3 separate regions of the Homo sapiens genome follow, and all the other regions are linked to region 2. Evidence: fine-mapped expression QTL. A gene starts in region 2. Each other region holds a variant in brackets. All regions are shown on one strand. Distances are from middle to middle. Region 1 overlaps NAPA (NSF attachment protein alpha). Region 2 holds the start of SELENOW (selenoprotein W). Region 3 overlaps NOP53 (NOP53 ribosome biogenesis factor).

The links.
Region 1: its variant is fine-mapped to the expression of SELENOW in whole blood (INTERVAL, PIP above 0.99).
Region 3: its variant is fine-mapped to the expression of SELENOW in whole blood (INTERVAL, PIP above 0.99).

Annotation. Positions count from the first base shown.
Region 1 is chr19:47,491,987-47,500,186 of GRCh38, reverse strand. It overlaps NAPA (NSF attachment protein alpha), which reads left to right. Exons shown (of 11, transcript NM_003827.4): 4 at 4,591-4,637; 5 at 6,694-6,771; 6 at 7,013-7,068; 7 at 7,142-7,226; 8 at 8,068-8,172. It overlaps NAPA-AS1 (NAPA antisense RNA 1), which reads right to left. Exons shown (of 4, transcript NR_038452.1): 2 at 6,586-6,740; 3 at 5,043-5,159. Among named protein-coding and RNA genes, the nearest start is that of NAPA-AS1, 12 kb to the right of the region's middle. The variant C/T (reference allele first, on the strand shown) is at 4,225.
Region 2 is chr19:47,774,053-47,782,252 of GRCh38, reverse strand. It overlaps SELENOW (selenoprotein W), which reads right to left and starts at 3,550. Exons shown (of 6, transcript NM_003009.4): 1 at 3,439-3,550; 2 at 1,504-1,528; 3 at 1,336-1,389; 4 at 1,071-1,145; 5 at 865-963. The coding sequence starts at 3,467. The coding sequence ends at 883. RefSeq lists an enhancer at 600-1,185 and silencers at 3,253-3,392, 3,403-3,662.
Region 3 is chr19:47,747,130-47,755,238 of GRCh38, reverse strand. NOP53 (NOP53 ribosome biogenesis factor) reads right to left here. Exons shown (of 13, transcript NM_015710.5): 3 at 4,953-5,061; 4 at 4,132-4,331; 5 at 3,649-3,719; 6 at 2,632-2,727; 7 at 608-712; 8 at 348-530. Among named protein-coding and RNA genes, the nearest start is that of SNORD23, 4.7 kb to the left of the region's middle. The variant C/G (reference allele first, on the strand shown) is at 4,884.

The sequences.
Region 1 (8,200 bases), 280 kb after region 2:
TCCCTACATCCTGGGGAGGAATTAGAGAGAACAGAGCCCGAGATGTAGTTGCCAGAGAACAAATTACTTAAAATGAGAGCGTGCTAGGGACAGAAACCCAGTTTGGGGCTGACTCATGGTGAGAAAACAGTTTTGTCCCCCTGGGTGCCTCCCGAAGAGGAGGTCCAGCCCAGTGTTTGCTTGCATGTGGCGGGAATTTTAATTTATTTTTTAAAATGTTGGTGCCAGGTACAGGTTGCTAATTAGAAAGCACAGGCAGTTTTTAAAAATGACCATCTATTGTCACTGTCATCTCAGGGGAATGGAAAATATATGAATCTTTAAAAAATAAAAAGCAGCTATATAATCTTGGAATAAAAGCCTGTCCTTCCCAAGAGAAGACAGGTTTGCAGCAGTGCAGGGAGCTTCCTCCATGGATCAGTGAGCACTGGTTCACATGGCGTGTTTGAGAACTGCTGGCATACCCCTTTGTCGTGATCTGACGTGTTAGTTCCCAGATGAGGATGAATTTGTGTTGACCAGTAGCTCTTCTCTGTCCTTAGACTGACCAGTTGCTCCTCAGCAGCTGGGCATCTCATGCGTTGGCCTCAGTGGTCACATGGTGGGGCTCAGGCCTGGCAAGAGGCCGAGGAGCAGCCTTGTAACTGGGTGGGCCATGGGGCTTGCCTGGCTGGTAGCACTGGGCCACAGCAGGCTGCGTGGTTGATGCAGTGATGACCCAGGGAGACCCTGGGTTGGTTTTAAGCTTGATTCACCACATGGAGTCTCCATGCCTTCCATTAAACTGCCCCGCCAAGCCTTTCCTTCTGCTCCCTGGGAAACTGGTTGGCCTAGAGGTGCTGTCTTAGCATCTGTGACGTTCAGCTGCTGCCCCATCTGGAGTGACTGGAAGGACACTCTGGGGCAACACTGAGCGCCAGGCTGCCGAACAGAGAGTGCCATTTGCTCTTTCAGCAGACCCCTCACTTCCTGCAGACAGGCCCTGCCTGGCAGTGGGATATGGTGGGGTCCCTCCCCTGCGTTTGATCTGAGCTTTTCTAGCTCTCCAGCGAGACTCTGCAGGGTGTGGGCCTGGAGTCTGGATGTGGCCCCTCCCTGGCCTTAGGAAGCTCAGAAGGTGGCTGAGGACTCCGACCGGTAGGAAAGTATAAAGATGATGTTACATCCAGGGCACAGAGGCCAACTTGCACAGAGCTGAGGCTGGGGGCGTGAATTTGGCTATGGGAGATCTTTCAAGGAAGAAAGGGGGCAGTTCTGAAAGGAGAGCCTCACCTGGGTAGAGCTGAGAGCAGGTGCCGTGTCCAGAGCCCTGGGGACGTGGTGTTGAGCAGGGAAGGGTGTTAGTGCAGCTTCCAGAGCTACAGCCTAAAGATACGCACGCCAGCCATGACTCCCAGTGGGGCAAGGGGCACATTGGCATCAAGGGCAGTGGCTGCTTTGTGTCTGAGGCTAGTCAGGCCTCACACAAGGCCAGGTGCAGTGGCTCATGCCTGTAATTTCAGTGCTTTGGGAGGCTGAGGCAGGAGGATCGCTCAAGCCCAGGAGTTCAAGACCAGTCTGGACAACATAGTGAGATCCTGTCCCCAAAAAAAAGCCTCACAGAGAATGTCATGTAGCAACTGTGTGTGGCTCAGCAGCGCAGGTGGTGGGTGGTCTGGGAGGACCCTGCCTCCCCTGTGATCCTGGGCAAGTCAGTCTTTTGGGCCTCTGTTTCCTCGTCTGTTAAAGCAGAGACTGCTGTGAGATGATGCAGTCATGCCCAGCGCGGCACCTGGTGTGTGATAAACTTCCAGTCAGGACACCCTTGGCTTTCATCAGTCCAGGGGCCCCTGCCTGCCCTGGGCTCCCCACAGCCTCTGCCCTTGGCCGGGTGCCTTGTGAGACAGCGCTGGAGGCCCGATTTGGAACCTTGCCTGGCTTCCCCAAGCAGGTGGCCGGTACCCTGGGGCCGTCCTCATCACTGGTCTCCTCAGCAGCCTAGAAGGCCTCTGTCTTGGGTCAGCACTTCTAGGGCTTCCTCCAGGACTCCCTCCAGAAGGACCTGCCCCCAAGTGGCAGCTGGAGTGTGCCTGAGGCCCGACTGGGCTCCCGAATTCCTCTCCCTCTCGCAGAGGGTGGCCTGCTGCCACCTTGGTGGCTCTGGGTGGGGAAGGGTGATGCTCATATGTGTTATTGGTTCCTCAGTTACCCAACCATGGCTGCTGCTCAGGGCAGACTCGGGCCAGCGAGGCCTCTTCCCAGGCCTGCCTGATAGTTGGGGGTGGGGGCAGTGTGTGTACCTGGGGCAGAGAAGCGACCTGGCCCCTGCTTGTCCCCCACTTCCTCCCCAGCTGCCATTTACTGGGTTTCTACTGTGTACCAGATGCTTGGCATCTTTTAACCCATTTGATTTCTTTGTGCATTCTGTGATTTGCCCCCATTTTACTAAGGAGGAGATGACCAAGTGTAACCAGGAAGGGCTTCAGAGACGCAGAAGTCAGGTTGGGCGTCGCTGGTAGGAGTGACTGCGGGGATGGGCGGTGGCCTGGGCCATAGCTCCCCAACTTGGGCTGTATTGCTCTGAGCCCCTTTCCAGCCCTCTGTGGGTGGGTACAGGAGGGGCCAGGCCACAGAACTGGGTGTTGCTCTGCCTGTCCGAGTGCACAAGGCCTGGTGACCTGAGATAAGAGTAGCAGTCATGAGTGTGTCAGAAGCTCGTCCAGGAGCCAGCTGTCCCAGGTGTCTGCTGGTGGCCCGCCGCTTTCCAGACATGGAGGGGACTTAACCCCGTGAGTCCATGTTGCTGCCTGGGGGGTAAGCTGTCTCCCTGCTGCTACTGCAAGGACTGTGCCATGCTGACGGCGGGTGCTCCAGAGCCAGTGCCAGCAGGCCCAGGTGGCAGCTGCAGATCTCACTGCTCACTGCGGAGCAGCAGCCTTTGCCGCCTCAGCCCACAGGGTGCCAGGTTGGTGTCCTGGGTGTTCCGGCCAGGAGAGTGAACCAGTGAGCAGCCCGGGGCCTCCATGTGGAGACTGCAGCCAGGTGGGGCGGGGCAAGGCGGGCCTCTCACCTCACTCCAGCTGCTGCTCTCCTCTGCAGCGTGGCCCGGCTTAGCCGTTGCTTCTGGGTCCGCCGATTACAGGATGTATGTGTCTTCAAACTGCCGGATTTAGGTTGTGTTCTCTCCCCTTCCTCCTCATCTGCCCCCTTTTTGCCACCGTTTCCACTGTCTGCTGCCACAGTCTCGGTCTGTCAGCCCTAGAACCTGGACTGAGTGCTGTACCTTCTCTCAGTCCCTTTTAGATCCCCAGAGGTCTTTCTGAATTGGACAAAACCTACAGACCCCACTCCCCAGAGGAGTGCTTATGGACCCCACTGTTTACATGTCAGAAGGAGGGGTTGGACTCCCTGAAAGCCCAGCCACAGACCTGAGACAAAGAGCCTCTGTCCAGATGCCTCCCCACGGAGGGAGTTTGGAGTCCCATCCAGACCGTGAGCCCCTTGAGAGGAGCCCAGCCCCGGCGCTTCTTGGTAGCACCCTCTTCTCAGGCGAACATGGCCTGGGTGACCATGGAGACCCCCACGGTGACCAGGAACTTTCAGATGCCCAGGCTGAAGCTCAGAGCCCATGCCCTGTGGCCTGTCCAAGCTCCCTGCCTTTCCCTCTCCCCAACCCAGGCCTCCCTCCCCACAACACCCCTGTCCTCCTGAGATGTGCTAAAATGGTGTTCTTAAAAAATACCCCCTGAGAGCTCATTTCTGTCTGCTAGAAAATGCCTCCCACTCATGCTTTTCTCTCTCCTCCAAATAACTTGTCAAAAAAAAGCCTTTCCCAAATTTAAAATCTTGCAAGAGATAGTACAACAAAGGTAGCCCAGTTCTTCCTCAGTGCCATCCTGGTGTGTTCAGGTTTTTTGGCAAAACCTTTGAGGAGCTGGTGGGTGGCAGGACTAGGTTAAAGGGACTGAGCAGAGGGCTCCCGACTGCTGAGCTACGAGGAAGAGGGGGCAGTGGAGAGCACACTGAGGGCTCAGTGTTGATGACATCCAGCCTCCTCGTGCCAGAGGTCCAGGTCCTCCTGGTGCAGGAGCAGAAGCTGCTCAGGATCCTGCAGAGATGGTGGCAGAGCCCAGGTAGAACCTGGCACCCTGTTGCCTCCAAGACCACCTCAGATGCTGGTTTGGCCGCCTCCCATGCCTCCTTCCCCTTTGCCAGCAGCTCAGTCCTTCAAGAGCAGGGCCTTGG[C/T]AGGTCTGTCTTAAAACACCGTGGGAGTCTGGCCATCATCCTGGCCTAGCACTGCTGTGCCCTGTCCCTGGGGTTGTGGGAAGCTGGTAGCATCCTGGCAGCCCGAGGAGAGAAGGGCTCCCCCAGAAGCATGTGCCCAGCAAGTCACAGTCTGCAGAGTCAGCCCTCTCACCAGATTTCCTGGGGCTCAGGGATTCCGTCCCCTTCTTCCCAGCCCCTTGAGAGTGTGTGGCAGCGCTGGCAGCTCTGAGCGCCTATTGATCTCTCTGCTGGCAGCCAGGTGCGCCTGCGTCCGCCTCCTCTCCTCAGCTTCTGCTGAAACGACTTCACTTTCTCATGTCTCCTCCCACCTCCCTTTCTCTCCAGAGGCCATTAACTGTTTGATGCGAGCAATCGAGATCTACACAGACATGGTAAGGGCTGCTTGCTTGTCCTGACACCCCCGGGTCCCACTGCATTGCCCCAGCCTTGCGTCCCCTCTTTCAGCACCCCCAGCACTGTTCTTATTCTGCGGCCAAACCACTTGGGGAGGGGGAAGTGGGAGCTGGGGGGATTAGGTCACCTGAGCTGGCCTGGGCTGGCTGGGTCTTCACCCAGCTCCCCACCAGCCTGACGGCCCCCTCACTCCACAGGCAGTCATGGTTTTCATTCATAGAACTTAGGTTATTGAGCTGGGCAGGGTGGCTCATGCCTGTAATCCTGGCATGTTGGGAGGCTGAGGTGGGAGGATCTTTTGGGCACAGGAGTTCGAGACCAGCCTGGGCAACATAGCAAGACCTCCTCTCTACAACAAATTAGCCTGGTGTAGTGGCATGCACCTGGGGTCCTAGTTCTTGGGAGGTTGAGGCAGGAAAATCGCTTGAGTCCAGGAAGTTGAGGCTGCAGTGAGCTGTGATCACACCACTGCACTCCAGCGTAGGCGACAAAACAAGACCCTGTCTCAAAACAAAAAAAGAAATTAGGTTACTGGAGAGTGTGTGTCCGGCACTTCCCCTTGCCCAGCCTTCCCGCAAGTGTCACATTTGATAAGCATCTTGCAGCAGGCCACAGGGATAGGCAGAGCCCACAGGAGGCTCAGCACCTGCCCTGCCCCCAGGGCGCGTTGCCAACGACAGATGCAGACCAGATGGGCAGCTGCCAACTGGAGCCAGAGTGAAGGGTCCCACCCAGGCCGGGGCTCCTGTCAGTGCTTTCTCTCTCTCTCTTTTTTTTTTTTTTTTTTTTTTTGAGACAGAGTTTCTCTCTCATCTAGGCTGGAGTTCAGTGGCGTGATCTCCACTCACTGCAACCTCTGCCTCCCAGGTTCAAGCGATTCTCGTGCCCTAGCCTCTCGAGTAGCTGGGATTACAGGCGTGTGCTACCATGCCTGGCTAATTTTTGTATTTTCAGTAGAGATGTGGTTTCACCATGTTGGCCAGGCTGGTCTCAGACTCCTGACCTCAAGTGATCCACCTGCCTTGGCCTCCCAAAGTGCTGGGATTGCAGGCATGAGCCACCGTGCCTGGCCAGCTCCTTTTTGCCTCTCCGCTTGCCCTGTCTGTCTCAGCCCTCCAACCCCAGGCAGGGACACGAGCCCTACCCCTTGCGTTCAGGGCAGTGCTGCAGGGATGACTGTGATTAGAACAATAATAGCAGCTGCCATTTATTAGGCCAGACACTGCAGGGTGGTTTAATCCACAGCCCTGTGAGGTTGGCATTATTGTCATCCCCGTTCCTTAGTGGAGGAGAGGGGCTCAGACAAGTGACATGATTTGCCCAGGGACATGTGGCTACAAGCAGGAGTCACTGAGACCCGAAACAAGGTCTGGCTGAGCCCAGGGCCTTGCCCTTTCCTACTGCCCTCAGCAAGGGGGTGGCGTTGGACCAGCCCCTGGTGCAGAGCAGTTAGGCAAGCGCCTGGACACTGGGTGGAGGCGGATGGAAGGTGCGAGGCCCCTTGGAACCTGAGGCCTCCCTGGGGAGCTCTGGGTGTGCCTGGGGGAGGCTGACAGATAGGTGTTGGCCTGGGGGCAGAGCTGGTACTCTTGGGCAGAGGTCTCAAGCCCTCCCTCCCATCCTGGTTTCTCCAGAGCCCTTTGCCAAGTGGCTCTGGACTGGTCCTTCCGCCTCTCTGGCTGTTATCAGAGGCTTCCTAAGGGCCAGGGCCTTGGCCAAGTGCTCGTGCTCACATTCTCTCTGGTGTCACACCATCTGTGCCCTCGTGGATGGGATGGAATTAGGCTAAGGCCCTGGAGTGGCTTGTCCAACATCACCCGCTCAGCCCAGCACGCATAGCCAGGCCTCTAGTGCTGGGGCCCTCCCTTCTCACTCCTGTGTTCCCCCACCTCTCGATCTTCTTCACACCTCAGGTCTTCTTCATACCTCCTCACAGGCGTGGCTGAGGGGTGGGAACTTGAAGGGTCATAGGTCAGCAGGCAGGCACGCAGGAGGTCATGAGTCGCAGGCAGCCCCTTCCTGTGTCCCCTCCAGGGCCGATTCACGATTGCGGCCAAGCACCACATCTCCATTGCTGAGATCTATGAGACAGAGTTGGTGGACATCGAGAAGGTGAGTGGCAGCAGGGCCCTGCATGGGCTGGCAGCCAGGACCAGTGCTGCTCTCTCTTCTTCCCACCAGGGGAGTCCTCTGGTGTCTGAGTGCCGAGAAGGGGGCATGGGGCGCCGGCAGAGCTTGGAGAATGGGGTCTGGCTGTGTCCCAGGCAGGCAGGGCGGAGGGTGTGGAAGCTTCACGGAGGCCTCCTCTCCCTTCCCTGCCCTCCCCTGGAACCCATCCCCCGTGTCTCCCCAGGCCATTGCCCACTACGAGCAGTCTGCAGACTACTACAAAGGCGAGGAGTCCAACAGGTAGCCCCCTTCCTGCCTGCCCCAGCCCCGCAGGGACCGCCACCACTTCCCCTCACTACTCCTCCCCACACAGCTCAGCCAACAAGTGTCTGCTGAAGGTGGCTGGTTACGCTGCGCTGCTGGAGCAGTATCAGAAGGCCATTGACATCTACGAACAGGTGGGGACAGGTGGGGATGGCGGCTTCCACCCTGCCCCCTCTCAGGGCCTGTGCCTCCTCCTAAGCCCCGGCACCTTGTTCTGGAACCACCCCTCCCCCGGCTCACCCTCTGCCTCTCCCCCGACATCCCTTGCCATGTCATCCCCCCACCCTGTCTTCAGCCTGGCTGAATGTTCTCCACCTACGACTCCATGCCGTGCCAGCACCGTCTCTCTCCCTGGCTGTGCCCCTCCCACACCCCTCGCAGAGCTTCCTGGAGGGGCCCAGAGTGAGGCTGGCTAAAGAACCCAGAGGGAGGGAATGGGAAGAAGTGCCAAGAGGCCCAGGGTGGCCGTGGGCACCCCACCCCATGGCCCGATGGTCCTCATCCACAGTGGGAGGGAGGGAGTGTCACATGGGGTCCCCCCAGCGTGCACGGAGCCCTGGGTGATGGCCGAGAAAAAGGCAGGCAGCTGGCCCCCTGGGAGAGAGGGGCGGGCGCCGCCTCTCATGTTCCCACCGCCTGCCGCCGCTCTGCCCACCGCCATGCCAGCCTCCCGTTGGTCCTGACAGCCAGGCTGCCTCCTTCCCACTGTCTCAGGCTCTCAGAAGGCCCACGAACACCTGGCTACAGCCTCCACCCCCACCCAGCCACCATCACACCCTGATCTTGGTCGCTCACGCACTGGCCGCTGACCTCTCCAAGCTGGTCCCTGGCTCCCTGCCCTTGGGGTCCTGGGTTAACAGGGCCTCACCTCGGGACATGAACCAGCTCCCAGCTGGCCCCCCAGTGCCTGGCAGTGGCTCTGGCCCTCTGGCTGCTTGCCCTGAGCTCACCAGTGCCACTTCTCCATGGCTACAGGTGGGGACCAATGCCATGGACAGCCCCCTCCTCAAGTACAGCGCCAAAGACTACTTCTTCAAGGCGGCCCTCTGCCACTTCTGCATCGACATGCTCAACGCCAAGGTAGCACACCCCACGCCCGCAGGACCAC
Region 2 (8,200 bases):
ATCAGGTCTGGAATATTCCTAGAACTAATTCTCAGGTTCAGAGCCCGGTGATAATTAGTGACCTACTCGAAATTGTGGAGCAAGGAAATTCTGTCTCAAAACATGCTGGGAACTTGGCCGGACGCTGTCACATGACCTGCTGGGTTGGGAACTGTTTCTTGGCAATGGGACAAAGACCTAGAGTTCCGGATTCTGAACCGTTGGGTTGCTAGCACTTTTCATTCCCAAACCAGGAGAGCTGTTTTAGGGCAGCCCTCTGACCCCACCACCAACTCAGCTGTCATCTTGCATACCCCATCTCAGCTGTCATCCTGCATACCTCTGACCCTATCTCAGCTGTCATCCTGCACACCTCTGACCCCATCTCAGCTGTCATCCTGCACATCTCTGACCCATCACCATCTCAGCCGTCATCCTGCACACCTCTGACCCATCACCATCTCAGCCATCATCCTGCACACCTCTGACTCATCAGCATCTCAGCCGTCATCCTGCACACCTCTGACCCATCACCATCTCAGCCGTCATCCTGCATACCTTTGACCCATCACCATCTCAGCTGTCATCCTGCACACCTCTGACCCATCACCATCTCAGCTGTCATCCTGCATACCTTTGACCCCATCTCAGCTGTCATCCTGCATATCTCTGACCCATCACCATCTCAGCTGTCACCCTGCACACCTCTGACCCCATCTCAGTTGTTGTCCTCCACCAACCGGGTCTAACTTTATCCCGCTCGCTCTGGGGACACACGTGATGTCCCCCCCATCTCCCAGGCTCTCCACCCTGGGCCAAGGAGTCAGAGCATGGGGCAGGGAGAAGATCCAAAGGGTGGTGTCCCTGTCTAGTGGGCCCCCTCACCTCTGCCTTCAGGGCGCATTAGCCCTGAGCCAAGGCGGCTTTGATGGCGGCCACCAACTTCAGAAACTTGCTTTCTGTGTCCACGTAGCCATCGCCTTTCTAGGGAGGGGAGGAAGAGGGAAGGGGTGAGCTGGGACCGAGACACCAACCTCAGCCCCAACCCCATGCTAGCCCCAAAACCAGGCAGGACGGACAGACAGACATACCTTCTTAGAGTGAATCAACTTCCCGGCTACCATCACTTCAAAGAACCCGGTGGCCTGGGGAGTTCCCTCGCCGCACTGAGGAAAGGGGGTAGGGGAGATGTTGGAGGGGCTAAGATGTCCTCTTGGGGAGACCCTCCCCTTCCCAGGGGGATGAGAACATGGGTGAAGGGCGTAGGGCTGACCTAACCCCCCTGCAGTGCCATCCAGGCCTAACGGACCGACACAGTGGCTGTGCTCAAGTCTTTCTCCCCATCCCAAGACTCACGATGTCCAGGCGGCCGGGGAACTCATCTTCTAACTTCTTCTTGAGCTGAAGATACTGAAAACGCGGTGAGAGGTCACAGCAGGGGTCATACCAGTCAGCCCCCTCCCAATATGCACTCTACCCCTCCCCAGCTCCCAGGAATGCCCCCCGGGCATCCACTCTGCTTACCTTGGACTTGTAGCCTCAAGCGCCACTGGTAGGAGAGTCCAAGACATTGGGGCCCAGGGGAGAGAGGGAGAAGTGGGGGATCGGGGAGAGGAGGGTAGACACAGGCGGTGTGGGGAGAGAGCAAGATGGGGCCAGGAAGAAATAAAGAGGAACACAGATGACCAAGCAGAAGAGGTGACAGATGCCCTCAAGAGAGAAGACAGGCACCAGCCAGGCAGAGTTTTGGGACACAGCACAGGGGGTGGCGCGGGGACACACAGAGACACACAGAAAACCAACACCAAGCAAGAGACAGAGAAGGGGGAGGGGAAAAAGGGGAGAGAGGAGACAAGGAGACCACAAATACGAGAGACGGGGACGGGGGAAAACCAGGAGAACTGGATTAGGAGAAGAACAGCACACGTAAGGTCCCCACCCACTCCCTGTGCCCACCACCCTCACCCACAGCCCTCGCAGCACTCCAAGGAAAACCCTGCGGCTCCTGGATTCTTACACCACGCCCAGCTAATTTTTGTATTTTCACCATGTTGGCCAGGCTGGTCTCGAACTCCTAACCTCAGGGGATCGGCCCGCCCCAGCCTCCCAAAGTGCTGAGATTACAGGCAGGAGCCACCGCACCCGGCCCCGCAGCTCCTAGATTCTGAACACCTTCCCAGTCCCCAGGGTGAAATACAGGCTCACCCAACCCCCACAGCAGGCTATTTCGGGACTGGAATCTGGTGTACAGGCCTGGTAGGCGTCTCAAAATGTCACTCTTGCCTCTGCTTTGTCGAGCAGGCAGAGACGTTGGAAAGCTGCCGACAAACCCAGGTTCCAGTTACCCCTGTCACCTGCAGTCCAGACTTGAAGCTACTGACCTGCCCCCACCCCAGTCCCAGCCTCAGTTTTCTCACCTGTAACATAGAACTAAAATTCCTCTCTTTAATTTACTTTTTTTTTTTGAGACAGAGTCTCGCTCTGCTGTCCAGGATGGAGTGCAGTGGCACGATTTCAGCTCACTGCAACTTCCGCCTTCCGGGCTCCAGTGATCCTCCTGCCTCAGCCTCCCAAGCAGCTGCGACTACAGGAGTGCGCCACCATGCCCGGCTAACTTTTTAAGTTTCTGTAGAGACGAGGGGGGGGTCTCCCTGGGTTGCCCAGGCTGGTCTCGAACTCTTGGGCTCAAGCGATCCACCCGCCTCAGCCTCCCAGTGTTTGGATTACAGGCGTGATCAACGGCACCTGGCCTAAAATTCCCCTCTCTTAAGGGATTCCTGGGAGGATAAATTCATTGAACACGTATTTATTAAATACCTACAGCATGCCACACAGTATTAGGTGCTGGGGAGTGGAGAGAACGTAATTTATATCCTATCCTATTATACCCTTCCTGAGACTTGCAGAAATTAAGCGTGTTCGGTATTGACACAGAGCCTCCCTCTTGCCACAGACGGAAAACTGAGGCCAGAAAAGGAGTGGGGTTCGTGGCCAAGGGAACCCACTGGGCAGAGGCCAACAATTCAAGTGCTTCTGAAACACAGGCTGAGACATTCTCGAACCTTCTGGGCTCTCACTGTCCCCACCCCGCGACTGTTCGGGATATTGGGGGAGGGGAAGCCTTAGGGTGGAGGAGCCTTAGGTCCCTTTACAAAGCTGACCCCCAGCCCCTTCCCCAGCGGAGCCCCGGAGTCGGGGGTTCGAAATTGACACACACTCGTCTCAGCCCCACCTTTTATAACCCGAGATGCCCAGCGTGTCACAAGTCGAAGACGGGGCCTAGGGACGACCGCCCTCTGTTTTTCGCCCCTCCGTACGCCCACCCCACCCACATACAGGGGCTCCCTTTTCCCATACAAGGGCTCCCATGGGTCCTCTCCCCGGGGCTCCCTGACCCCGGCTCCGAGAATCGGGTCCCGGCGGGGGTCGGGGACGGGGGCCGCTGGCCGCTGGGCTTACCAATAAACGACTCGGACGGCGAGAGCCATGGCTCGGGGCTGCCACATCCGCTGAGGAGCGGACGCCCGGGCCACACTAACCTCCCACCTGGACGCGCTAGGTCTGCGCGAGTGCGGCGGGAACCTGCGCAGAAAGGATGGAGCCTCGGCTTCCCCTGGCGCCAACCAATGCCAGGGAGGGGCGGTGGGCGGTGGGCGGAGAGGCGCCAAGGCGGAGGATAAGGAACCCGCGACCCGCCAGCCCGAGGCCCCCACACAAGTCTCCTTCCCATCCTCCTGTTGGGCTGGAGAGAGTCTCGATACAGGCAGTCCCCGGGGGAAGCCCTCCGCGCGTCCCCTCCCAGGTCCCCCCGGCCAGAATGGTACGGCCCACGGGGGCGGTGATTTACGGCTGGCCGCTCCCAGCTGGACCCGGAATCAGCCTCAAGGGTGGTCTTTTCACTGCGTGGGCTTGGGGACGGCGCGGTGGGGACAGAAGCAGGGCGCGATTCTTGAGTCCCTCACCTCCCCTGGAGAGGGCGAGGGGGCGAGAGGGGAAGGATTCGGGGTAGACCAGGTGAGGGAGGAGACAGGGAGTTGAGGGGGAGGTTTTCAGGGAGCGGTCCAGGGCCCACAGTTGCCTTATAAAGACCTGCAGCCGCAGGGCGCGGTGGCTCACGCCTGTAACCCCAGCGCTTTGGGAGGCAGAGGCAGGAATTCAAGACCAGCCTGGGCAACATAGCCAGACTGCGTCTCTACAGAATAATAATAATAATACATTAGTGGCTGGGTGCGTTGGCTCACGCCTGTAATCCCAACACTTTGGAAGGCCGAGGCGGGCGGATCACTTGAGGTCAGGAGTTCAAGACCAGCCTGGCCAACATGGAGGAACCCCGTCTCTATTAAAAATACAAAAATTAGATGGGCGTGGTGGCGCGTGCCTGTAGTCCCAGCTACTCGGAAGGCTGAGGCAGGAGAATTACTTGAACCTGGGAGGCGGAGGTTGCAGTGAGCCAAGATCAGGCCAATGCACTCCAGCCTGGGTGACAGAGCGAGGCTCCACCTCAAATAAATAAATAGATAATAAATCAGCCGGGCGTGGTGGTGTGTGCCTACAGTCCCAGGCTACTTGAGAGGCTTAGGCAGGAGGCTCGCTTGAGCGCAGGAGTTTGGAAGCTGCTGTGAGCCGTGATTGCACCACTGCACTCCAGCTTAGGCCACCAAGCAAGACCCTCTCTAAAAAAACAAAAGGCCTGCTGCGGCTGGGCACGGTGGCACATACCTGTAATCCCAATGCTTTGGGAGGCCGAGGCAGGAGGACTGCTTGAGCCCAAGAGTCTGAGACCAGCTGGGGCAACATAGCAAGACCCCATCTCTACAAAAACTTTTAAAATTAGTCCGTGTGGTGGCATGTACCTGTACTCCCAGTTACTGGGGAGGCTGAGGTGGAAGGATCACTTTAGCCCAGGAGTTTGGGGCTGCAGTGAGCCGTGATTGTGCCACTGCCACCCCAGCCTGGACAACAGAGTAAGACACTGTCTCGAAAAAAGAAAGAAAGGAAAAGGCCTGGCCAGGCACAGTGGGTCACACCTGAAATCCCAGCACTTTGGGAGGCCAGGGTGGGTGGATCACCTGAAGTCAGGAGTTCGAGACCAGCCTGGACAACATGGCAAAACCCCGTCGCTACTAAAAATATGAAAATTAGCCAGGCGTGGTGGCGCATGCCTGTAGTCCCAGCTCTTCGGGAGGCTGAGGCAGGAGAATCACTTGAACCCAGGAGGTACAGGTTGCAGTGAGCCAAGATCACGCCATTGCACTCCTGTTTGGGCGACAAGAGCAAAACTCAACTCCATCTCAAAAAAAAAAAAAAAAGGAAAAGGAAAAGGCCTACTGCCGGACCTGGCACAGCCTGGTCATTCATTACAGAACAATAGTCACTCCCCATGAACCCTCTCCGTGCAGAGGGGATCGTCATGGAAAGTGCTAGAAACAGGCAGTTGAGTTGAGGAGTGAGGGTGCAGGGGCTTATCTCTGAGCCTGTTTCTCCATTTGGAAGTTGGGTGTAATTGCCTACAGGAAATGTTCACTCATTTAACAAATAGGTACTTCATAACCACCTGCAGTCCCAGTTTCCAGGGATACAGCAATGAATAAATAAACAAAGTCCCTTCCTTCATGGGAGTGATCTGGCAGGTAGAGACAAAGGGCAGGAAACAACATGAAAACAGCACTTCCATTAGATGGTTGATGTGAGCAGTAAGCGAGTTTATACAGGTAGGAAGAACTAGAGCTCTGACTGGCACACGGGGATAACTCAATAAACTCAGCCTGATGAGGTGGCTCACACCTGTAATCCCAGCACTTTGGGAGGCCGAGGCAGGCAGATCACCTGAGCTCAGGAGTTCAAGACCAGCCTGGCCATCATGGTGAAACCCTGTCTCTACTAAAAATACAAAAATTATCCCAATGTGGTGGTGCACGCCTGTAATCCCAGCTACTTGGGAGGCTGAGGCAGGAGAATCACTTGAACCCAGGAGACAGAAGGCAGTGAGCTGAGATTGCACCACTGCGCTCCAGCCTGGGCGACAGAGCGAGACTGTATCAAAAAAAAAAAAAAAAAAAAAAAAAGGTTAACTCTATCTGGGATTTCCCTGTCCCCAGATCCCCTAGTCTTTACCTCTTAGAACCCTAAGCAAAGTTCAAGTCGACTCCACCCACCTCAGTCTGATCCCCCTGATCTTGGGAGGATTTAATGAGCAAGTGCATGTAAAGCAACACAGGGCTGGGCAAAAAGTGAATGACCCACAAATAGAGCTATCTTCTGTGACTCCCAGAGCCCTCAACAAAAACTCAAACCTCTGCCTGGGCAACATAGTGAGACCCCATCTCTATAAATACAAATTATATATATAGATATGTATATACACAAAAATATATATACAAAATAAATATATACATACCATATATATTTTTTTGTTTGTTTGTTTGTTTGTTTTTTGAGACGGAGTCTCACTCTGTTGCCCAGGCTGGAGTGCAGTGGCACAATCTCGGCTCACTGCAACCTCTGCCTCCCAGGTTCAAGCAATTCTCCTGCCTCAGCCTCCCAAGCTGGAGCTACAGGCATGCGCCACCATGCCCAGCTAATTTTTGTATTTTTAGTAGAGACAGGCTTTCATCATGTTGGCCACACTGGTCTCCAACTCCAGACCTCAAGTGATCTGCTCACCTCGGCCTCCCAAAGTGCTGGAATTACAGGCTTTGAGAACCGGGCCCGGCCCCAGCCAATTTTTTAAAATATTTTGTAGAGACAAGGTCTTGCTATGTTGTCCAGGCTGCTCTCAAACTCCTGGGCTTAAGTGATGTTCCTGTCTCGGCCTCCCCAAGAGCAGAGATTACAGGCATGAGCTACCTCTCCAGGCTCAAATTTCCGAATTTTTTAAGGACACCAGTCATGATGGTTTAGGGACCATCCTACTCCAGTATGACCCCAACTGATTATATCTGCAACGACCCTACTTCCAGGTAAGGTCACATTCTAAAGTACGGTGGGTTAAGACTTCAATATGCCAATTTTGGGAGTGGACCCAATTCAACCCATAACAACATCATTCAGGCTGGGCGCGGTGGCTCACGCCTGTAATCCCAGCACTTTGGGAGGCCAAGGTGGGTGGATCACGAGGTCAGGAGTTCGAGACCAGCCTGGCCAACATGGTGAATCCTCGTCTCTACTGAAAATACAAAAATTAGCCAGGCATGGTAGCGGGCACCTGTAGTCCCAGTTACTCCGGAGGCTGAGGCCGGAGAACGGCGTCAGCCCGGGAGGTGGAGCCTGCAGTGAGCAGAGATCGCGCCACTGCATTCTAGCCTGGGTGACAGAGCGAGACTCCGTCTCAAAAAAAAAAAAAAAAAAAATAGAGATGGAGCCAGGCGTGGTGGCTCACGCCTGTAATCCCAGCACTTCAGAAGGCCAAGGCGGGCAAATCACTCGAGGCCAGGAGTTCAAGACCAGCCTGGTAACATGGCAAAACCCCATCTCTACTAAAACTAAAAAAAAAAAAAAAAAAAAAAAATTAGCCGGACCTAGTGGTGCATGTCTGTTGTCCCAGCTACTCAGGAGGCTGAGGCTCGAGAATCGCTTGAACCCAGGAGGCAGAGGTTGCAGTGAGCTGAGATCATGCCACTGCACTCCAGCCTGGGTGACAGAGGGAGACTCCATCTCAAGAAAAAATGAAAACTAAAAATAAATAAAAATAAGAATAGATATGAGGTCTCACTATGTTGCCCAGGCTGGTCTCAAACTCTTGGGCTCATGCAACCCTCCTACCTCGGCCTCCCAGAATGCTGATTACAGGCACGAGCCATCATGTCCGCCCCATGTGTTCATTTTTAGATCTGTAGGACAGTCATGGTTTTCCCTTTTTTCCCATAATTATCTTGTAACAACATTATCCTCAAGAAGGCCCTCTCTAAGCCCCTGGCTCCTCCATCGCTGGCCAAGCCACTGTGGTTGTCACAGGTCCCGTGCCCTCACTGATGTCCTCAGCACACTCTGCAAGTGGCCGGGCTCAATGCAAAAGCTCACAGGACCTTTTGTTGACCAGGCTCAGGGCTGAGAACTTGCCAGGGGCCTCAAGAGAGAAGGGACATCACTGCCTCTGCCACTGTGAACAAAAGGGCCTCTGTTGCCCAGAAGTGGGGGATGCTGGAGGAATTAGTAATGACTTCTGGGCTGGGAGGCCATCCCCCTCCCCTTTTCTCTCTCTTTCACACACACAAACACACAC
Region 3 (8,109 bases), 27 kb after region 2:
CTTCCTAACCCCGTCACATCAGCGGCCCCTCCAGTGCCTTCCCAGCAGCTGTTTGCTGAAGCCCCTTTTGTCATCCATCTCCCCTGGTCTGCGGTGCAGAAACCTCCCCCCACCCCGCCCCTCAAACAGAAGCGCCAGGGACCCTGTCCCACCCCAGCCCGAGCCCTGCCTGGAAGAGGCTGGGAAATGAGTCTCAGCTGTGAGGATCCCAAACAGCCCAAACCACAGGCCACATGCGGGGCTTGGGGTGTGCAGGCTGCCCGCAGCACCCAGGGCAGCCCATGGTGGGAGGAAGGAAGGAAGGGGGCGAGGCATCAGAGGCAGGCCCCGCTGGCCCAGGCGCTCACCAGCCTGTGCACAGCCTTCTCCCGCCGCCGCTGCTGCTCCGTCTTCTTCTCTGTGGTGGCCAGGCGGGCGGGCGTGGGACAGACCTCGGCATCCCCAGCCTCCGGCCCCTCGCCCTGGCCTGGCTCCCCCTCACCATCCGACTCCTCCAGCAGCCCCTCGCACAGCTCCTGGAATGTGGACTCCTGGGGAGGCGGGGTGCAGTGTCAGGGGTGGGTAGGAGGCCCGGGGAGGGGAGGGAGTGGGCAGGTGCGGGGCTCACCTGGGTGGCGGCCTGCTCCGTGGCGGGCAGGGCCAGCTGCCGCTCCAGCTTCTCCGCCTCCTTCTGCCGCTGCAACTCCACCTCGTGGGCCGCTGAGAGCAGGGTCTGAGGGGCGGGAGTGAGGATGGGTCCCTGAACCCCTCCTGGGACACTGAGACTAGACCCTCTTACCTCCCATCTGTCCCTCATCCAGTGCCCGTGGATCCCGCCCCGGCCCAGGCTTTCCTCCCCACACCCCGTCTACCAGCACACCCACCCTGCACAGAGCCAGAGGGCACCTCAAACCCTCGCCCTCACACCTGCTCTGCACGTCTGTGAAGGCAGTCTGACCTGCACGCTTCACATTTTTTTTTTGAGATAGAGTTTCTGTCTTGTTGCCCAGACTGGAGTGCAATGGTGTGATCTCAGCTCACCACAACCCCCGCCTCCTGGGTTCAAGCGATTCTCCTGCCTCAGCCTCCCGAGTAGCTACTATTACAGGCATGTGCCACCATACCCGGCTAATTCTGTAACTTTAGTAGAGATGGGGTTTCTCCATGTTGGTCAGGCTGGTCTTGAACTCCTGACCTCAGGTGGTCCACCTACCTCGGCCTCCCAAAGTGCTGGGATTACAGGTGTGAGCCACCATGCCCGGCCCACAGTTTCATCTATGTGAATTGGTCAGGGTGGGCTGGTCCCTGAGACAGGAAGCCTGGCAGCCCAAGACCACACGAGACAGGGAATTGCGGGGGTGATGGCTGACATGTGTGAGGTTTCCTTTACGGACAGTGAAAATGTTCTAAAATTGACTGCGGGGATGGTTACACAATGGTCACTAAAAGCCACTGAATCACATACTCTAACTAGGCTGACCGTATGGTTAAGTGAATTTTATCTCTACGAAGTAGTTCTGTACAAATCTAAAAGTGAATGTCTGATCTCCACGCCCCCTCCCACATCTGGTCCAGGAACAGATGGCAGTGAGCGGCACCCTCACGCTTTCAACCATGAGCACACTGTTGCTTTTTTCCGCAGACACTTTTCTCTACCAGATGAGGAAGCTGCCTCTGTTCCTGGCTAGCTATCTCCTTCTTATGAATGCTGAAAACGATTCGGACAAGCGGTCCTGCATCTACCGCAAACATCTCAGCATCTCTCCAGTCACGTGACCCCATGAGAAGGGCTGTTCCTTGAGGGAGGGTTGTGCTTGTTTTTTGAGTCTCGCTCTGTTACACAGGCTGCAGTGCCGTGGTGCGATCATAGCTCACTGCAGCCTGGACCTCCTGGGCTCAAGCAATCCTCCCACCTCAGCCTCCCAAGCAGTTGGGACCACAGATGCGTGCTGCCATGCCCTGCTAATTTTCTGTATTTAGTAGAGACAGGGTTTCACCATGTTGGTCAGGCTGGTCTCCAACTCCTGACCTCCAATGATCTGCCCGCCTCAGCCTCCCAAAGTGCTGGGATTACAGGTGTGAGGCACCGCACCCGGCCAAGGGAGGGGTTTTTGTCCCCTTTGTCCACAGCATCTGTGCTCAACAGATGCCCGCTAAATGCACAGTGGCTCCAGCTAGACTTTCCCATCGCTGAGCTAGCCTCGCCCATATATAACTGTCACTTGGCTGCCAGTGTGCCACCGTGTCACCACAGCCTTTTTCATCTCTGCCCCACAGGCTTCCTGGAAGGCGCCACGGTCTCTCTCAACTCTGTGCCTTTGCAGTGCTGTTCCCACCACCTGGAAAACCCACTCCCCTCCTCCCACTGCAAACCCCTCCCTCAGCCTCTGCCTCGGCTCAGGCGACCCCTCCTCCCGGGAGCCCTTCCTGACCCCCCAGGCTGGGCCAGGTGCCCCGTCTGGGCTCCCAGCCCCAACCACTCTGCCCATCACTGTCTGGGAACAGGTCTCTTGCACTGGACCGTGAGCCCCGTTGCGGACAGGCCCAGGGCTGTCTGGGTCATTGGAGTTCCCAGCACAGGGAGGAAGCTAGTGAAGGCCTGACCAAGAGGCAGAGCCCACTGAGGAGGGAGGCCTGGACGGGGCAGTGTACCTGGTGGTCTTCAAAGGATGGATTGTAGGAAGCTCCGGCAGGCGCCACCTCCACGGCGGGTGCCTGGGACGGCTTGGTGTGCAGGCGTGCTGGCCGCTGTGGAGAAAAGGCCGAGGCAGGGTAAGGCCGTGCGTTGGGGCTGCGGGTGACCCAGGACACAGCCATGGGGCAGATGCTCCAGGCCTTGCCAGTGGTTGGGTGTGGGAAGAGCTCAAGGGGCATTCAGGTGACTCCAGAGCAAGACTCCATCTCAGAAAAAGGATAGCAGCCTATCCTCTGCTACCCACGAGGCTGAGCCCCGGAGATTGTAAGCACCTGGGCTCTAACACTTGGGGTCCAGCAGCTCAAGAAGGAGGCTGCAAATCCAAACTCAAACCCGTGACACTTCTGCCACTTGCCAGCACGGGCTCCACCTTCTCATGTGCTACCTCTTTACATTCTCCCCACCGACCCATGATCTAAGTACAATTTCATCTGTATTTTATTTTATTTTTTTTTTTGAGACAGAGTTTCGCTCTTGTTGCCCAGGCTGGAGTGCAGTGGCATGATCTCGGCTCACTGCCACCTCCACCTCCCTGGTCCAAGCGATTCTCCTGCCTCAGCCTCCCTAATAGCTGGGACTACAGGCACGTGCCACCAAGCCCAGCTAATTTTTTTTTTGTATTTTTAGTAGAGACAGGGTTTCACCACGTTGGTCAGGCTGGTCTCAAACTCCCGACCTCAGGTGATCCACCTGTCTCGGCCTCCCGAAGTGCTGGGATTACAGGCGTGAGCCACCATGCCCGGCCCTCATCTGCATTTTAGAGGAAGATATAGGTTGCAGAAAGGTGAGACCACCTTCCCAGGATCAGTCAGCACTGGAGCTGGGACAGGAATCCCAGCCACCTGGCTCCAGCACAGAGTTCTCGGCCACTGGGATGGAAGGGCTCTGAGACAGACTCTACTGCAGGAACACAGAGCAGCTCCCGGCCCTCCTCACCCTCCCATCACCCAGGATGCCCTTCCCACACATCTCACCTTCACTCCTTTCTTCTTGGTCTGCTCCAGGAAAAACTCATCCTGGCCAACCAACGGCCTGTCCAGGGGGTCTGTGGATACAGCGAGGGGAGCTGCTGGGACAGTCCCAGCATGGAAGAGGCACCAAAGGCTCCCCCCCAATCCCTCCACATTTCAAAAAGGTGACCCTGAAGCTCAGGCAAGGGAAGGACTGATTCTAGACCCCAAGGGCCTTGATCACCAGGACAAAACTGTGTCTGGACGGGTTCAGAAAGTGGAAGAGACCAAAGCTGAAGGCTTCCTTTCCTGAAGCCTCACAACTCAGGAAAGGAAAAGCACGAGTGGGAAACGGCCGCCCCTTCAGGACGCACGACTCTGCTGGGAGGTCACCAAAGCACCCACAAAGCACTCCCTTTCACACTGTACTCTCGTGCAGTGCACAACACACACAAACTGCACATGGCCGTCCTGTCCCCATTCATAGGTGACAGCAGGATCACTCACTGTCTGAGGCCCAGAGGTCGTAGAAGGGCCGCTCTACGGTGTCCTGGGGCCCGGGCTTGGCCCTTGTTGCAGAAGGGTTGAGGAGCCGGGCCTGGGCCCTGCGCACCTCCCGGGGCAGCTCGCCCTGCTTGGCCAGCTTCTCCCATAGCTGCTCCTTCCGCCTGAGCTTCTTGGCGTTGGGGACCTGGTGGGCGAGGACGCTGGTCGGGGAGAGGGGGCACAAGTGCAGCAGGTGAGGTGGCAGCCTGAACGGCAGCAGGGCCTCCTCCCCGTCGGGCTTCCTCCACCATTAAGGCAGCTTCAGCACCCCCTCTCCAAAAGGTGGCACTCCGCCCCCTCTTCAGAGAACTCCTCTCCCCACGTCTGTCTCCAGCCTAGGCCTCCCCTCTGAGCCCCAGACTCAACGAAGCAACAGCCCCGTCCTGGACATACCCCAGGCACCTCACACCACCACGTCAAAACCAACCTCAGCATCACCCGAAATCCCACTCCTCCACATCCCCATCTCAGGGGAAGGCCAGCTGTCCACCCTCTCACCCGCTCATGCCCCAAGACCCACCTGATGTGCCTCCTGAACACGCCTCCCACTCAGCCCCTCCTCTCCAACCCCGAAGCCCCCAGCTGGGTCCAGGCCCCTCCTCACCTGCCTCGGCCCAGCACCAGGGCACCCAGACTCCCTCCCTCTAATCTGCACTCCGAAGCCCAAACCTGAGCCTGCCCTACCCTTCAAATGACCCTCACCTACCAGCCCC[C/G]AGCCCCGGAAACCCTTTAGGACCAGAGTCTGGTGGGAAAGAAGGGCCCAGGGATGCTGGGACACTCACTCTTTGGGGGCAGGGACTTTGGATGTGTTCTCGAGGATGAGGTCAACCCGAAGGGGTTTCTTGAGAAGCAGTGACTTCTTCTGGACTTTGGTTCTCTTCTTTGTCAGCCCTAAGAATGGGAAAGAGAACAAGTCAAGGCCTCAGCCCTACCCACTGCCAAAGACCACCCACCCTATTCACCTCCATGGGAGCCATCAGACCTGAATCCCAAGTCACCCCAGGAGACTTGGAGGTCCCCAGGCTCCTACCTGGAGGTAGAGGCCCCTAAGGATGGGGCCCAAGGTGCCCAAGCTCTGACCCTCCACAACCAAGTGCTGGGCCAGCAGGAGGCAGGCCCCATGCTGGGGACACGAAGAGTCACGCCCACAGCCACATAGGAGGGTCTTCCAGACAAACAGGGAACCTCTTCCCTGCATGGTGGCTCACGCCTGTAATCCCAGCACTCTGGGAGGCTGAGGTGGGAGGATCGCTTGAGCCCAGGAGTTTGATGCCAGCCTGAGCAACATAGTGAGATCTCATCTCAGGGGGAAAAAAAAAAGGAAGAAAGCAAGTCATCAGTTGACACTGAAGCCCAGGGAGGGCCACAGAAGTGGACTTGGGACCCAGGATGGCCACTTCTCAGCATAACTTCTAGTTCTCTGGTTTTTACTGTCTTTTTCCTCCCACAAAGATACCTGTGGTTTTTACTTCAAAAGCCTAACAGTTAAAAGCAGTAACTCTACAGCAAAACACTCTAGAATGGAATAACACCCTTGCATGGACTGTGGGACCTCACACAAGAGGCTTAGCTCCTCCGTGCCCCCAAAATGAGGATGTGGATACCTCCCTCACTAGGCCGTTATGAAGATGTAATCATTTAAGGCCCACAAAGCACAGGGGCTGACCTGGTTGACTGCTCACAACCACTATGATCTTTGTCCGTGTTTCCTTACTAAAGTGGAACCCATAAACTGCCTCTTTCCTGCCCCCCAAAGAGGCTTCCCACTCGCCAAAGCACGCCGGTAACTACTTTCCCATCTGTTCATTACGGGCAGGTCACTGACTTACCCTTTACACTCACACACCAGATCAACTCACTTCGGTCAAGGCTGACTTCTCTAATAACCCCCCACTTTTTTTTTTTTTTGAGACAGAGTCTTGTAACCCAGGCTGGAGCGGAGTGCAATGATGCGCTCTTGGCTCACTGCAACCTCTGCCTCCCAGGTTCAAGCAACAATCCTGCCTCAGCCTCCTGAGTAGCTGGAATTACAGGCATGCGCCACCACGCTCGGCTAATTTTGTACTCTTAGTAAAGACGGGGTTTCTCCATGTTGGTCAGGCTGGTCTCAAACTCCCGACCTCAGGTGATCCACCCGCATCAGCCTCCCAAAGTGCTGGGATTACAGGCGTGAGCCACCACGCCCAGCTTGAGACAGAGTCTTGCTCTGTCGCCCAGGCTGGAGTGCAGTGGTATGATCTTGGCTCACTGCAACCTCTGCCTCCCGGGTTCAAGCGCTTCTCAGTAGCTGGGATTACATGCGTGTACCATGACGTCCGGCTAGTTTTTGTATTTTTAGTAGAGACGGGGTTTCGCCATGCTGCCCAGGCTGGTCTCCAACCCCTGACCTCAAGTGATCCGCCCCACCTCGGCCTCCCAAAGCGCTGGGCTTACAGGTGTAGGCCACTGCACCCAGACTCTAATAACCACTTTTTACCTGCCTATTGGAAGTCTCCTGTACCTCAGGGCAGCTCCTTCCACTCTATCTGGTCACTGAACCAGGTCCGCTCATTTTCATTAAAACATACCCTTTGACTGATCTCACACAAGCTCACTCTCTTGCTCATTAAAGCAGACCCCTTCGCTTGCTTCCAGGCTGTTCATTAGAGCAGATCATCTGTTCTTAGTTTGTTTTTCTACATATTGAAGTAAACACTATTACTCACCAGAGCAATCCCTCCCTCACGCCTCATCTTGTTTCAGCAGATCCCCACCCTACATTCTAGCAACTTAAGGCAAGCAAGTTAAGACGTGTGTTACCCGCTCACTAAAGCAAGTCCTCTTATTCCTATTAAAGCTCATCTTGGCCAGGCGCAGCGGCTCACGCCTATAACCCCAGCACTTTGGGAGGCCAAGGCGGGTGGATCACCTGAGGTCAGGAGTTTGAGACCAGCCTAGCTGACATGATGAAGACCCATCTCTACTAAAAATACAGAAATTAGCCAGGCTTGACCAGGCGTGGTGGCTCATGCCTGTAATCCCAGCACTTTGGGAGGCCGAGGCGGGCGGATCACCTGAGGTCAGGAGTTCGAGACCAGCCTGACCAACATAGAGAAACCCCATCTCTACTAAAAATACAAAATTAGCCGGGCATGGTGGCACATGCCTGTAACCCCAGCTACTCAGGAGGCTGAGGCAGGAGAATCGCTTGAACCTGGGAGGTGGAGGTTGCGGTGAGCTGAGATCACGCCATTGCACTCCAGCCTGGGCTTGAAACTCCATCTCAAAAAAAAAAAAAAAAAAAAAAAAAGAGAGAGAGAAAAGAAAAGAAATTAGCCAGGCTTGATGGTGCAGCCTGCAGTCCCAGCTACTTGGGAGGCTGAGGCAGGAGAATCGCTTGAACTGAGATCACACCACTGTACTCCAGCCTGGATGACAGCGCAACACTGTCTCAAAAAAATAATAGTAATCCCAGGCTGGAGTTCAGCGGCGCGATCTCGGCTCACTGCAACCTCCACCTCCCAGGTTCAAGTGATTCTCCTGCCTCAGCCTCCCAAGTAGCTGGGATTACAGGTGCCCGCCACCACAACTGGCTAATTTTTGTATTTTTAGCAGAGACGGGGTTTCACCATCTTGGCCAGGCTGGTCTCGAACTCCTGACCTCAGGTGATCTGCCTGCCTGAGCCTCCCAAAGTACTGGGAATACAGGCGTGACTCACCGCAACCGGCAGGACTGAGTTAAGCAGGTCCTTGACTTGCTTTTCTGCAAGCTAAAAAGAGATCCTTTAATGTGTTTCTAACTTATTCATCAAGGCAGACTCCCAGCAGCTTATCTGTGCATGGAGATCACTGACATCTCAAAAGAAAAACCTGCCTTCTCTAAGTTCGTCTCCAGCTTGCTTTCTGCCCATTTGAGGTCCCCTTGTTTATATTAAGGTTGACCTGTTTCCGCAGATATTT